Homo sapiens: one gene and its partners. The protein of the gene in region 4 purifies or fractionates together with the protein of the main gene of each other region. This does not show direct contact. Each region holds a gene or a part of one and is shown on either strand. Other genes may lie near its edges.

The links. Proteins that work in one complex are often made in the same cells at the same time.
Region 1: the proteins of SERPINA5 (region 4) and ZZEF1 purify together in Homo sapiens (affinity purification with mass spectrometry; 2 studies listed by BioGRID and IntAct, with this or other methods). This does not show direct contact.
Region 2: the proteins of SERPINA5 (region 4) and FURIN purify together in Homo sapiens (affinity purification with mass spectrometry; 2 studies listed by BioGRID and IntAct, with this or other methods). This does not show direct contact.
Region 3: the proteins of SERPINA5 (region 4) and HGFAC purify together in Homo sapiens (affinity purification with mass spectrometry; 2 studies listed by BioGRID and IntAct, with this or other methods). This does not show direct contact.

Annotation. Positions count from the first base shown.
Region 1 is NC_000017.11:4,014,031-4,017,530, reverse strand, and holds part of ZZEF1 (zinc finger ZZ-type and EF-hand domain-containing protein 1), read left to right. Parts: coding exon 1-160; intron 161-756; exon of another isoform or gene 757-898; intron 899-1,064; coding exon 1,065-1,208; intron 1,209-3,015; coding exon 3,016-3,184; intron 3,185-3,342; coding exon 3,343-3,441; intron 3,442-3,500. UniProt on the Homo sapiens protein: Histone H3 reader which may act as a transcriptional coactivator for KLF6 and KLF9 transcription factors.
Region 2 is NC_000015.10:90,875,088-90,878,587, reverse strand, and holds part of FURIN (furin isoform 1 preproprotein), read right to left. Parts: intron 3,007-3,500; 5' UTR 2,848-3,006; coding exon 2,671-2,847; intron 2,334-2,670; coding exon 2,235-2,333; intron 2,127-2,234; coding exon 2,031-2,126; intron 1,693-2,030; coding exon 1,564-1,692; intron 1,454-1,563; coding exon 1,377-1,453; intron 1,062-1,376; coding exon 973-1,061; intron 457-972; coding exon 284-456; intron 1-283. UniProt on the Homo sapiens protein: Ubiquitous endoprotease within constitutive secretory pathways capable of cleavage at the RX(K/R)R consensus motif. Mediates processing of TGFB1, an essential step in TGF-beta-1 activation.
Region 3 is NC_000004.12:3,447,477-3,449,986, forward strand, and holds the end of HGFAC (hepatocyte growth factor activator serine protease isoform 2 preproprotein), read left to right. Parts: intron 1-15; coding exon 16-155; intron 156-418; coding exon 419-559; intron 560-651; coding exon 652-800; intron 801-1,760; coding exon 1,761-1,943; 3' UTR 1,944-2,010; downstream 2,011-2,510. UniProt on the Homo sapiens protein: Serine protease that hydrolyzes the inactive zymogen hepatocyte growth factor (HGFsc) to an activated disulfide-linked heterodimer, then initiating hepatocyte growth factor receptor signaling pathway.
Region 4 is NC_000014.9:94,580,144-94,584,225, forward strand, and holds the start of SERPINA5 (plasma serine protease inhibitor preproprotein), read left to right. Parts: upstream 1-1,282; 5' UTR 1,283-1,347; intron 1,348-1,471; 5' UTR 1,472-1,567; intron 1,568-4,082. UniProt on the Homo sapiens protein: Heparin-dependent serine protease inhibitor acting in body fluids and secretions. Inactivates serine proteases by binding irreversibly to their serine activation site. Involved in the regulation of intravascular and extravascular proteolytic activities.

The DNA.
Region 1 (3,500 bases), on a different chromosome or scaffold from region 4:
AGCTGTCCTGTACGCCCGCCACGTGCTTGCATCCCTGCTCGCCGAGTGGCCTAGCCACGTGCCAGTGAGCGAGGACATCCTGGAGCTCAGTGGCCCTGCCCATATGACCTACATTTTGGATATGTTCATGCAGCTGGAAGAAAAGCATGAGTGGGAGAAGGTAGTTATGCAGACTGAGCTTGTGCTCACCCACCAGGTTCTTCCTCTGCCCCACAGGCTTCCTCCAGTGAGTGCTTCCTGGAGCGAGGCTACCTGTGTGGCTGTGCAGCTCCCTGACAGGTGTGAATGCAGCAAAGGTAGGGTCACTGTATCCTCTCCCAAGGATTGGGCTAGTGAGGAACTCAGGGGCCCTGAGCGCGATTTCCAGCTGAACCAGAAAGCTTTGTCGCCATCTTCCCAGTTTCCAAGTGCAGAAATCTTGAGGCACATTCGGTAGCTCCTTTTTGATCCTGTCCCTCACCCACCTTCACACACACACACGCAGTCCATGAGGAAGTTCATTTGGCCTCTCAGCCTTGCTTTGTCCATCTGAGAACACCACCAGACCTCGAGGTCTTTTCCCGGCCTTGCAGCCCTGCAGGTGCTGGCAGGCTTGCTCTAGCATATCTATCTTTCGGAAGGGACAGAGGGAGCCACCCTGCCTCTACTAGGCCCTTGCATAGGCGTGTCCTCCCACAGTTCTTGCCACCTAGAGCTCCCAACCCTGCACCTCACTCCAGGCATCGATTACATTGTGTGGTCATTATTTATCCATAGGCCAATCCACCTGCTTGGCTGGGGACTCCTTCAAGGACCAGGACCCTTTATGATTGGTTCAGTTAGTTCTTTCAGACCACCTCTAAGTAGCATCATTCTGAAAGGACTGCAGTGTCCTGATTGACACCAAGAGCCTGGTCAAGTGAGAGGTGGCTGGTGGAGTTGGTTTTGGGTGGTGGAGTCACAGAGGCTCGTCCTAGGTCTAAGATGATGCCAGCACCTTTGGGTGGAGCTTGGGTTGAAGTAAACTGTCCCTTCTTCCTGATGCCACTTGCAGGCCCTGACCTTATCTGTCTGCTTCCCACCAGATCCTGCAGAAAGTGCTCCAGGGCTGCCGAGAGGACATGCTGGGGACCATGGCCCTGGCTGCATGCCAGTTCATGGAGGAGCCAGGAATGGAGGTGCAAGTGAGGGAGTCGAAACACCCGTATAACAACAACACCAACTTCGAGGTAAGCCTGGGGCCGGCAGGCCCCATAAGAGCGACTGAGCCGCAGAGACCTCGTCAGCCCCTCCGTGCTCAGCCCCTCCATGCTCAGCCCCTCTGTGGCTCTCTCCCGCTGGACAGCAGAGACCTGTCCAGGAAAGTGCTTCCTTGAACAAACTGCAGTCTGCCTCCCTGAGGCCAGGGATTCTGTACAAGCAAGTCTTCTCTTCTCCGGACTTTTCTTGTTTTAATAGAAGAAAATGGGCCACCTAGCCCTGGAGGAGAGCTTTACTTTCCCTGCGGCAGGCTCCTCAGAGTGAGTCCTTGGCTTCACAGTGAGACAGTGAGTCTGAATGTGGTCCAGGTTGGACCCTCACTCTTCAGCTGCCACCTCATGACCTGCCCCCACCGTGGATACTACAGCCCCTTTTTAAAATTTCCCAGAACTGAATCAGAGTCTCATCTTTTCCATCCTTAACTTTGTGCCTGGGCAGGGAGGTAGGCATTTTGATGAGGCAGGAATGGGGCAGCCTCCGTTATTCTCATTGACTTAAGGCCATGTAGTCCCTTTAGCACTTTTTTTTGAGACGGAGTCTCACTCTGTCGCCCAGGCTGCAGTGCAGTGGTGTGATCTCGGCTCACTGCAACCTCCACCTCCCGAATTCAAGTGATTCTCATGCCTCAGCCTCCCTAGTAGCAGGAATAAAGGCACCTGCCACCATGCCCAGCTAATTTTTGTATTTTTAGTAGAGACGGGGTTTCACCATATTGGCCAGGCTGGTCTCTAACTCCTGACCTCAGGTGATCCACCCGCCTTGGCCTCCCAGAGTGCTGGGATTACAGGCGTGAGCCACCTCACCTGGCCCCCATTAGCGCTTTTAAAAATGTTGGAGAGAAAACTGAAATGTTGGAGTTGCCCAGGCATCTACTTCTGAGTGGAAGGCACCTGCAGCAGCGAAGGTGGATGATGAAAACCGATTTAGAACTGGGTTATTGGCCAGCTGAGATTTTGTTTTTCAGAAGTATAACCTGTCTTTCTTCCAAGTCTCTTCTCTTGTCATGTTCCTGGGCTCCAGCCCCACTCCCTTGGTCCCATACAGGCACATGTGGTCAGCCACCAGGTTCGATCCCAAAGAGGTCTTGTCTTCTCCACTGACCCTGGACACCCGTTGCCCTTCTCTGGGGTTCCTTTTGCTGCTACTTTCTGATTTCCTCACTTTTGCCTCAGCCCAGCCTTGCTCCACACCAGCTGTCAGTGATGCTACACTGTGCAAGCCTCACCAAAGCTTTCCAGGGTTTTCCCTGTTGTCCAGAGTCTGAGTGCCTCATTTTCATGCCCAGGGCCTTCAGTGTCTGCCCCTGCCAGTCTCTCTGGAGTCAGGTCTTGTCCCTGTTCCTGCTTCCCAAGCATACGTGCCCATGTAGCACACCCTTTACTCCAAACACGCCAAGCTCCTTGCCATTCCCTGAACATGCTAGACCTTCACAGGGCTGTTACCCTGTCTGAAATGCACCCCATGCACTCAGGTCCACCTTGTCTCCCACTCCCGCCTTCTCCTAACAGGGTCCTCCTGTCCTCTTCACTCTTCACAGCAGCCTGACACTCTTTCTCTGGGGCCCCGTGTTGCCTGCCCCGCTGTGCCTCCCTCGCACCATATTTGCAGTCTGTGCATGCTCCTCGCCCTAGCTGGACTCTGCACTCCTGGAGGCCAGGGCTGTGGTTCACTCATTCTCACACACCCGGGTCCAGCCACAGGACTCGGCATGGGACAGCTGCAGTCAGTGTCTAGTGAGCAGCATCGACAGATGTGTTCTCCATTTCCCCTCCCTAGGATAAAGTTCACATTCCTGGTGCCATCTACCTCTCAATCAAATTCGACTCTCAGTGCAACACAGAGGAGGGCTGTGACGAGTTAGCCATGTCCAGCAGCAGTGACTTCCAGCAAGACCGACACAGCTTCAGCGGGTCTCAGCAGAAGTGGAAAGATTTTGAACTTCCAGGTAGTGAAACAAATACTCGATTAGATAGGTTCTTCACAGGCAGTGTTTAAACTTAATATTGAGAAGGGAACTTACTGGAGAATGTTGAAACCCAACACCACTGCTGCCATTCCCTGTTGCTTCAGTTCCTGATGGGCCTCTGATCCTTGTGTGCCTAGGAGACACTCTGTATTACCGCTTCACCTCCGACATGAGCAACACCGAGTGGGGCTACAGATTCACCGTGACGGCCGGACACCTGGGGCGGTTCCAGACAGGTGTGTGCTCTGGGCTTTGCGTTCACACCATCTGCCTGCCAGGGACACTCCATGGCTGT
Region 2 (3,500 bases), on a different chromosome or scaffold from region 4:
AATCAGACCAAGAGGCCAAGGCGGGAGGATCGCTTGAGGCCAGGAGTTTGAGACCAGCCTGGGTAACACAGCAAGACCTCATTTCTAAAAAAAATGTGTTTTTTAATTAGGCAAGTCCAAGTGGTATATGCACTCTACTCTTCTTCTGTCCCTTAATGTTTCAATAAACATGCTTTGTGTAAAGTTAAACATGAGAATAAATAAAACAAACCAAAAAACACAAGATAGGTACGGAAGACAGCACCCAACCTGCCCGCAGGGGCTGGACAGATCCCCACCTCACCTGGCTAACCCCACGGAAGAAGGCCTCCTCGGCGAGGCGGGCTGGCCCATCCACTGTCTTGCCGTCATCCTCGGGGCCCCAGCTGGCACTGTAGATGTGGATGTGGTTGGGGTTCAGGCCCAGCGAGCGTGCCTCCACTGCATCTGTCACCTCGCCATCCAGCATGCGCACCCCTGGCCGTGAAGGGGGGGCACGAAGAGGGATGCTGCATGGGTCCAGCTGTCAGGGCCCCCACCCCAAGGAGCACACCCAGCCCTGCACCCCAGGGGATGAGTAAGGGAAGGGTGGAGGCTGATGCTGAGAAACCCTGAACCCCCAACTACCTGTTTGCCTCTGCCTTTCAAAGACAAGACCCAGAGAAGGAAAAAGAGAACACCTCCTGCCCCCAACCACACATTCAGGACTAGAAAGAGTCTCTGGTTCCCAAAAGAGCCTGGTGATCAAGGATCTGCCACGTGAGGACTCACAGTGGGTCGTGAGGATTTCAGGAGACTCCTGCTAGGAAACCCTCACTCCACAGGGGTCCAGCTCTTTCAGTCTTTGACCCTTTGGGAACCCTCCATGGAACAGCCACGTGATCAAAGGATCCACAGTGGGAAAGTGGCAGGCATTGGCCAGATGGGAAGTGGGCGGGAAAAATTCCACTGAAGGGCCCTCCTGAAGACAGGGTGGCCCAGGCCCACACTCACCTCCAATGCGGGCGTTGTAGGCCACACCTACACCACAGACACCGTTGTTGGCCACCGCAGCCACTTCCCCCGCACACCGTGTGCCGTGCCTGCCAGGGCCAAGCACGTAGCATGAGTAGAACAAATGGGGTGAACAGGGCCCGGCAGATGTGGCCTGAGGAGCACGAGGGATCCGCACATCCGACACCCATCATCCCCTGAGTACCCAGCCCCCATCTCCCACACTCCACTGGGCCTGTGGCCATCTCCACTCTGACCGAGCCCTCCCTCAGAGCCCCAGGTGGGCCAGGACTGTGGGAAAAGCCTCAGCCTTTTAGGCAAGGCACATCTCACCCAGGCTCAGCCCTGTTCCTTAGTGGAAGAAAGGAGAAGGGAGGCAGAGACCGGGGCCTGCCACTTCTTACCTGTTGTCATTCATCTGTGTGTACCGAGGCTGGGGGTCAGGGTCCTGGTCATTGACATCAAAACTGGCCCCAGGATCCTAAGAAGGATTTGGCCACCATCAGGAGAAGGCTGACCTCACTGATAGAACAAGACAGCCTCTAGACACACCTCAGCAGGGATCACGGCCTCCCTCCCCGACTTCCTCACATAATTGCCTGCCAAGTCCGGGTGGTTCTTCTCGATGCCATCGTCCAGAATGGAGACCACAATGCCGTGCCCTGTGTAGCCCTGCGCCCAGGCCGCCTTCACATTCAGGTCCCGCTGAGTGACACCAGACTGTGGAGACACCCACCCCATCACTTATGAGACATGATTGGTTTTGTGAGGCTAGGAGCATCTTGAAGAATCCCTTTGCCCCCGTAAAACCTCCTCCTGTACCATCCCTGCTCCTGAAAGGCCGCCACTGGCTGTCTGGACTCCATGGGAATGTAGAGGACTCTGGGAGGGCCACCCCCAGGCTTGCTTATTAGGATGGGCCAAGGAGAGACTGCCCAGCAGGAGGAAAGGAAACGAATCAGAGGAGGCCTCGAAGACAGCCTCCTCCATCCAAGAGCTCATAGTGGGTGGATGGTGCATCTGGGGAGGAGGTCCCAGCAGCGAAGAAGGCCACGTACCAGGTACCACTGCTGAGGAAACTTGGGGTCTGTGGGCTCCTGGTACACGTCCCGTTTAGTCCGTCGCTTTGCCACCTGCTGTTCCAGCCACTGTACCTGTGGGGGAGTGAGGGAGAGATGGTGTGGGTGGAGCAGGAGGCGAGAGGGGCTCCTGAGAGCAGGAGGGGGAGGGTGGCAGCAGGAGGGGGCTGGGGCCACACTCACTTGAGGCTCCCTCTGCAGCCGGCTGTGCCGCGGGCGGTGAGGCGACAGGGACCGCTTCGTCACTCCTCGATGCCAGAAGTGGTAATAGTCCCCGAAGATCTGCAATAGAGCAGGGAGACTGAGCTGGGCTTTCCATCTGTCAGTCCCCGGGAGGCGGGGGACGGGGGTGGACAACGGCTTCATGGGAGGCTCGCCACGGTCGGGGGTGCGGGGCATCTGCTCCCTGTCCGGGACCCAGCAAAATGCGGGGACCATGAGGACTCACTCTCACTGGGATATGCTGCTTGCCTGAACCACCTGTGCTTTGCTCATGGCCACCCAGAACATGCCGGCTACCCAGATGCCCCTGAGCAAACAAGGCCAACAGCTCCTGCTCCCAGAATCCCTGTCTTCTCTGGTCCCACCCCCTGGCAGTGTCCTGTGGGGGAACACCTACCTGGCCCAGGTTGAGGAACCCATGCTTCCGTGCCACACTGTTGGCCACCGCTGGGCCTCCAGGGATGCGCACAGCCCACGTGTTGGTGAAGACCTTCTGGCCCTGAGCATCAGCTGCTAGCAGGACCAAGGTTCCTGTTGCTGCTACCACCCATAGCAACCAGGGCCTCAGCTCCATGGGGGGGACAGGTGGCTGGGACCCTGGAGCGCCCGTCTCCTTGGCCTGGTCACAGGGCCTCGGCTCCCAGGTGCCTGCTCACTGCCTGTGGCCCGGGGCTGACTGGTGGGGGCATGGGGCCGAGACGGGCAGGGCTCGGGAGGGTGAAGAGTGCCGACCCTGAGAGGAACAAGAGGGGAAAAGGGGAGAGAGGGTCAGTTCCTCCCCTGCTACGCACTAAAGCTGCCCTGCCCACCCCAAGTTTCAATTGGGGCCTGAAATGAGATCTGGGGGAGAAGGGTAAAAAAATTAGTCCTCCCCAGAAGAAATCTAGCCCCCAAGGCCAGCCACATAGATGGACAGATGGATGCCCTCACAATCCCCCCCAATCCTTTCTCCATGCAAGAATATAAGAAATGTAACAGAAGGGCCAGGCATGGTGGCTCACTTCTGTCATCCAGCACTTTGGGAGGCTGAGGCGGGTGGATCACCTGAGGTCAGGAGTTCGAGGCCAGCCTGGCCAACATGGTGCAACCTCGTCTCTACTAAAAATACAAACATGAGCCAAGTGTGGTGGCGGGTGCTTGTAGTGCCAGCGACTTGGGAGGCTGAGGCACAAGAATTGCTTGAGCCCAGGAGGTGGAGGTTGCAGTGAGCCAAGATCGCGCCACTGC
Region 3 (2,510 bases), on a different chromosome or scaffold from region 4:
GCCCCCCTTGCACAGCCCCCCCAGGGACAGCGTCTCCGTGGTGCTGGGCCAGCACTTCTTCAACCGCACGACGGACGTGACGCAGACCTTCGGCATCGAGAAGTACATCCCGTACACCCTGTACTCGGTGTTCAACCCCAGCGACCACGACCTCGGTGAGCTCCGGCGTGTCGTGGCTGCACTCTGGGCAGGTGGGCCCTGTGCTCCCCAGGCCAGGCCCAGACAGGGGCAGGAGCTGGGCAGACATGTGGTGCGGGGGAAGCTGGGGGCAGGGCAGGGAGGACAGGGCACCGCTCCCTTCTGGATCTCCCAGGCTGCCCTGTGGACCCCACTGGCTACCCTCCCTCCACCACGGGCCCCGACAGCCTCCCGTTCAGCCCGCACACCACAGGCTGACCCTGGCCACTCTTCTGATCAGTCCTGATCCGGCTGAAGAAGAAAGGGGACCGCTGTGCCACACGCTCGCAGTTCGTGCAGCCCATCTGCCTGCCCGAGCCCGGCAGCACCTTCCCCGCAGGACACAAGTGCCAGATTGCGGGCTGGGGCCACTTGGATGAGAGTGAGTTGGGAGGGGGGCGCCCAGCGCCCCGCCAGGGTGGACAGTGGCCAGCCACAGTGTGGGTGTCACGCTGAGGGCATTGTGTCCCACAGACGTGAGCGGCTACTCCAGCTCCCTGCGGGAGGCCCTGGTCCCCCTGGTCGCCGACCACAAGTGCAGCAGCCCTGAGGTCTACGGCGCCGACATCAGCCCCAACATGCTCTGTGCCGGCTACTTCGACTGCAAGTCCGACGCCTGCCAGGTGAGCTGGTGCCCGCCCCACCAGGACCCGACTGGTGGGGGCTCAGCTGGTCCTGAGTCTCCGAGATGCTTGCCCCTGGGGAGCCCAGAGCCTGGCGGCACCCCAACCTGGCAGGGCCAGCCAGGGACCCCTGGGCAGGGAGCACACTTACTGTCGGTGGCCAGCACCCCAGGGCCACCCAGAGCCCTGCCGGAAGGGCATCCTCCTCACACAGAAGGGGAGACCCAGGCTCTGAGAGGGGCCTGGGGTCCCACAGAGCCCGGACAGTTCCTGGCTGTCCAGCCCAAGGCAGTGCTTTCCGTGTGACACTAGGCACCAAAGGCCCCTTTGCCCCGAGTTCTCTCAAGCCAGCTCTTCAACCTTCAATAAGTTCTTCAACCTTCAATAAGCCCAACAGCCCAACCACGTCCTGGGCTCTGCAGGCCTGTGTGCTCAGGCGGCACGGCAACCCTGGCATGCGACGGCTCTCTTATGCCCCATTTTATAGCTGGGGAGACTGAGCCCCAGGCAGTCAATTCACTCTTCCAAGGCCACAAAGCCCAGGAGTGGTAGAGTGGGTAGGGCTTGTCACTGGACCTCGATAAGGGAAGTCAGGATGGTTTCCTGGAGGAGGGAGTGTTTGCACTGGTCCTGAGTGATGCGTAGGAGTTTTCCAGGGAGTGAAGAAGTCATTTCAGGAGGTGCTGGGACACAGGGTGGCTGTGTGGTCCACACAGGGTTCATGCTGGTGGGGAGAGGGGGACCGTGGCTTCAGGAAGGGGAATAACGTGGTTGGATGCCCTGGCCCAGCCAGTGCTGCCCCCAGGGAATGAGACACCTTTTCATGAGGTTCAGGAGAGTGGATCAGCTCCCTTGCTCAGAAATGCCTTTGTCCTCTGTCCCCAAGCTGCCACTTGGGGGAGAGGGGGGTCCCTGAACCAGGCCCCTGGGAGGGTGGCTCTGACCAACGTCTCTGCCCAGGGGGACTCAGGGGGGCCCCTGGCCTGCGAGAAGAACGGCGTGGCTTACCTCTACGGCATCATCAGCTGGGGTGACGGCTGCGGGCGGCTCCACAAGCCGGGGGTCTACACCCGCGTGGCCAACTATGTGGACTGGATCAACGACCGGATACGGCCTCCCAGGCGGCTTGTGGCTCCCTCCTGACCCTCCAGCGGGACACCCTGGTTCCCACCATTCCCTGCCTTGCTGACAATAAAGATATTTCCAAGAACCCGGCCCACGCTGCCTGGCCCCTGCCTGCGGCCCCGCCTTCCCCTCCAGGCCATGACTGGGGCCCAGGTCTATGCGCAGCAGGCCTCAGGCTGCCGTTCTGGAGCGCACACAGTCCTCAGTGGAGACGGAGCCTGTGGCCCCACAGCGGGGTCTGGCCCCACGGCCCAGAGAGTTGTCAGGGGATGAGGTCTGGGCCTCTCCAGGCCCCAGCAGAGTCCAGCCCCCTCCCAGGCCAGCCCCAGGCCGGGGCTCAGCACCTGGGTTGTCCCAGGGCAGGAAGTGGAAACCAAGTCCAGGCCCCCAGGCGTGGAGGGGTCCGATCCGCGTGGTGCACGGAGTATTGAACCTGAAGAAGAAAGAGCGGCCCCACGGGAACACCCGCAGGCCGTCGTTGGTCTTCCAGATGGCAGCCCGCCTGCCTGAGCCTGGGCTGCACTTCCCGGGAGGGAGGAGGCCACAGGCTGCCTCTGTGGGGGCTGAGGGAGGGAGGGGCCCATG
Region 4 (4,082 bases):
TTCTGGATACCCAGAAGTGATCATGCCTGGTTCTAGATACCCAGTAGTGATTGTGTTTCCTCTAGATACCCAGTAGGTATTGTGCTTGCTTCTAGAGATGTAGTAGTAGCTGGACTTAGCTCTAGATACCCAGTGCTCATCTCTAGACTGGGCTGAGATCAGTGTCTCCCTTGAAGGGTTATTGTAAGGATGAAAAAAGATAATGCGTTTAAAGCACTTGGTGTAGTAGGTGGTCTTTTTAAAAGTGTGAATAAATACTAGTTCTTATTATTTCTGTGGATATCCAACAGCCACATAATTGGGCCCCAAAGCCATGAAGAAGGAAGAGGAAATGTCTTAAAGGTTGTCGATGGACAGTGTTTGCTGAACATCAAAATCACTTTCCAGGTATTACCTCTGATTTGCTCTACCAACTCCACACCCCACCTGCAGCCACATAACCTTCCATGATCACGGCCATGCACAACACACCATGTCCCCCAGGCAAGGGGACCTTAGAAACATAACCAGGCTTGAGACAGCACTCTGCACCGGTGTCTTGGAAATGCTCTTAAGAGTGTATGGCTGAGTTAGGGAACCAGGATTTCAAAGTAGAAAGGGAGAATCTACCCAAGCCCATAGAAATCCTGAATCCACTCCTTTCTCAGCAACAAGCACTGGCCTGGGAGTCAGCCACTTATGCACCAACCCCACTCTGCCCCTAATTAAATGCATGACTTTGAAAATTCCCCTCATTCTTCTGAGCCCCAATTCAGTGATTGGTGCAATCACAGGCTTGGCTACAGTGACCCATTCATTGCAGGCATGGTGAGTCTCTCAATCCCTCTCATTTCCACTAGAATCTAACTGTTGGGATCTATGACCCAGTCAGCATAGCAGGCCTGTGGGGAGCTCTCAGGTTCAAGCATATGCCCCCCCTAATCTACAAGAAATTAGCTGCAGAAAACCAAGGAATAGAACCTGGAAAAAGAGAGGGTTTGCTAGAGCTGTCCCTTTCCCTGTCTCTGGAATGCCAACAATAGGGAGGCTCTTTGGTCTTGTCTCTCAGGAGTGCCCATGCCATTCCAGGAAAATGATGGCCCAGCTGGTGGTGTAAGGCTTGGGGGGCAGCGAGTGGGCATCGTGGTGAAAGCCTCGGGATCAGGGAGCTGCGTCTGCAGGCAGGCCTGCTGGCCGGAAACCTGCCAGGAAAGGAAGGGGCTGTCCCGGGGCGGGGCCAGGGAGGGGTGGAGACAGGGCCGGCTGTGGTCAGTGACAAATGCTGGCTGCAATCCAGCCAGCCCTCTGCCCTTTCTGAGCCCGAGGGACTGCCACCTCCACTGTGTGCACACTCAGCTACGGGACACAGTAAGTACCGATGCCGCAAAGGGAGGTCCCCAGGGCTTGAGGGCATGTGAGGCGAGGAGAGGATGGACTCTAGAGTTTTGGGGTTTGGGGTCTGCAAAGCTCTGAAGGAGTCTCATCTCTGCAGTTTCAGGTATCCAAGGCAGCAGAGGTGAGTGGGTCCCCCGAGCTCTGTGACCTTATGCTCCACACTAACTCTGGCAGAGCCTCCGTTTCCTCATAGGTAAGATGGAAATAATTACACCCTCTGGATGGTGTGACTGAAGATTAAATACAGCGGGTGCTCTCACTCAGCACATCTGGCCATGTCTGCAGACACATTTGGTTGCCACAACTGGAAGGGGGGTGGGGGTTAGTGACATCTAGAGGCCAGCGATGCTGCTGATGATCCCACAATGCCCAGGACAAGATCACAAAGCATCATCCTGTTCAAAAGGTCAACAGGATCAAGGTTGAGAGACCCTGAAATAAGGCCATGGGGACAAAATGTCGGCTGGATAGGAGGTGCTCAGTAAGTGGCAGCTTCTGTTGTTTTCTGTGCCTGGAGTCTTGGGCCTTTAGAAATCAGGAACAATGATCCAATATTATCGGCTTCCGTGAGATAAGGGCATCTTGCCTGGAGGCTGCCACCCAGGCCGGTCATGGCAGCTGCTCATGAAGGACAGTAACAATTTGGCAGTTTGTTAAATGAACAAAATGTAGAAATAAAGTAAGCAGAATTTTTAGTTTTTCTGAAGGTAGGGCTTTTGGCCAGATATGCAGCAATAAAAGAGCAAACTGCTTCCTTGGGCCAGTGTCCTTGCTCATAGATCAGGAAACCGAAGCATGAAGAATACAGGCGGCAGATGCCTGAAGGTAACGGACGTGTTCATGGTGCTGACGGTGATGATAAGTGACAGATGTAGACTCATCTCCAAACTTGTCAGGTTATAGACATTAAATATGTGCAACTTTATGAATAGCAGTCATGTCTCAATCAAGTGGTTTTAATAAAGAAATAATAGGAAGCCAGAGCTGAGAGACAGGGAGGGAGTTGTTCAAGGTCACCTGGCAAGTGAGCTCCGGGGCGGGGAGAGCTCAGCTCTGGGTGGCCAGCCTGGCTTTTTCCACTGCTCAGTGTCCAGCTTGCAGTCTAATGTCTCTGAATTACAGAGAAGGAGACTGGTCAGTTCATTCATTCATTCATTCTACAAAGGTTTATGGAGCATCTCTCCTGACTGCAAGCTCTTGAAGGTGAGAGCAGCACAAATGAGGGTCCCATGGAGAGAGAGGCCGGAATGAAAAATGTCAATGACAAATGCATATATAAAGGCACATGTGTAATTGAAAGAGCTTTGAGAGAAAGAGTCAAGGGACTGTTCCAGAGAATAGCCATGGAAGGGGAAAAGGTCCAGTGTGATAAGGTATTGCAAAGAAGTGACATTTAAGCAAAAGCCTGCAGCCTATGCAGAAGTTGGCCTCAGTGAGAAAGGTTGGGGGAGGGTTCCAGTAGAGAGGGAAGGTATGCAAAGGCCCAGAGTTAGGACAGAACTTGCTGTGTTTGAGAAACTGGGAAAAGAAGAGTGAGCCTGGGGGTATCACGTGATCCAGGGCAGAGCAGGTCCAGGCCAGGTGCAGCCAGGTCACAGCAGCCCTAGTGGGTTAGAGCACAAATCAAAGTTTAGCATTTATCTGAAACACAGGAGTTGGCCATGAGTTTCTTAGGCGAGGAAGCGCTGTGACCATATTTATGATTGAAGGAGATTCTTTTATATGCTGTATATAGAAAGCCTTTCAGGGCAAAGAAAGGAAGCTACTGGGGTAGCCCTGGGGGAGATGAAGGGAGCTTCCACTGGGGGCAGTAAGAAAGCCAGGGAAAGGCGGCAGCTTTAAGACCTGTTTTGGAGATAGAACGGACAAGCTTTGCTGATGGGCTGGAGTGGAACAGGAAGTCAAGATTACTTCTTCTGGGAAGTTCTGTTCCTGGGTCTTTAGGATCTAGAGGAAGCTGTGACTTTGTCTCTCATCTCTGCCTGGGCTCCAAGCCTCACATCCCTTTTTGTAATTAGAAGATATTGGACAGACCGTCCTCACTAACACAATTCCCACAGCTGAGTCCAGGGTAGAACTGGGCAGGACTTCACTGCCCAACACGGGAAATATCAGTCAGCAGATTTGGGTTTCGGGGATGGTGGTGGGCCAGCGGGAAGACTGACCAGGGCCTACCCATCACATCCCCACCACCTCCCACCTCAATTCACCTTGGCCTGAGATGACAGGTGAACATGACTGATCCTCTCTCTTCCCTCTGCAGAAACACTAAAGCCAGGGACCAGGAGAGGGGCAGCCCAACCAAGCTTTCAAAGCACTCAGTAGAGGCTGGTCTGGGGGATGGGAGGCTCCCAGGGCTTCACCTGTCTCTGTCAAAGCCATGTATTTCCACCAGAGGCCCAAGAGTGCGATGGCAAACCCTGGATTTGAAACTAAGAAACGTAAAACAAGCACTGAGGACTCCACTGCCTCTTGAGTGACCTCTCTGACCCTCTGTTTCTTCTGCACTGTTAGGATAATGATACTAACTCCATGTTGTTGTAGAGAAGTATAAATGAGCTAATACAGGTGAACCGCCTGGGGATACCAGGAGGTGAGGTCGAGGAGGAACGAGGTATCACTCCTCAGAGCCACTCAGAGACAGGCTGTGCACGAGTCAGAGGAACCTGGATTTTAATTCCGGTTCCATCACTCAGTAGCTGAAACAA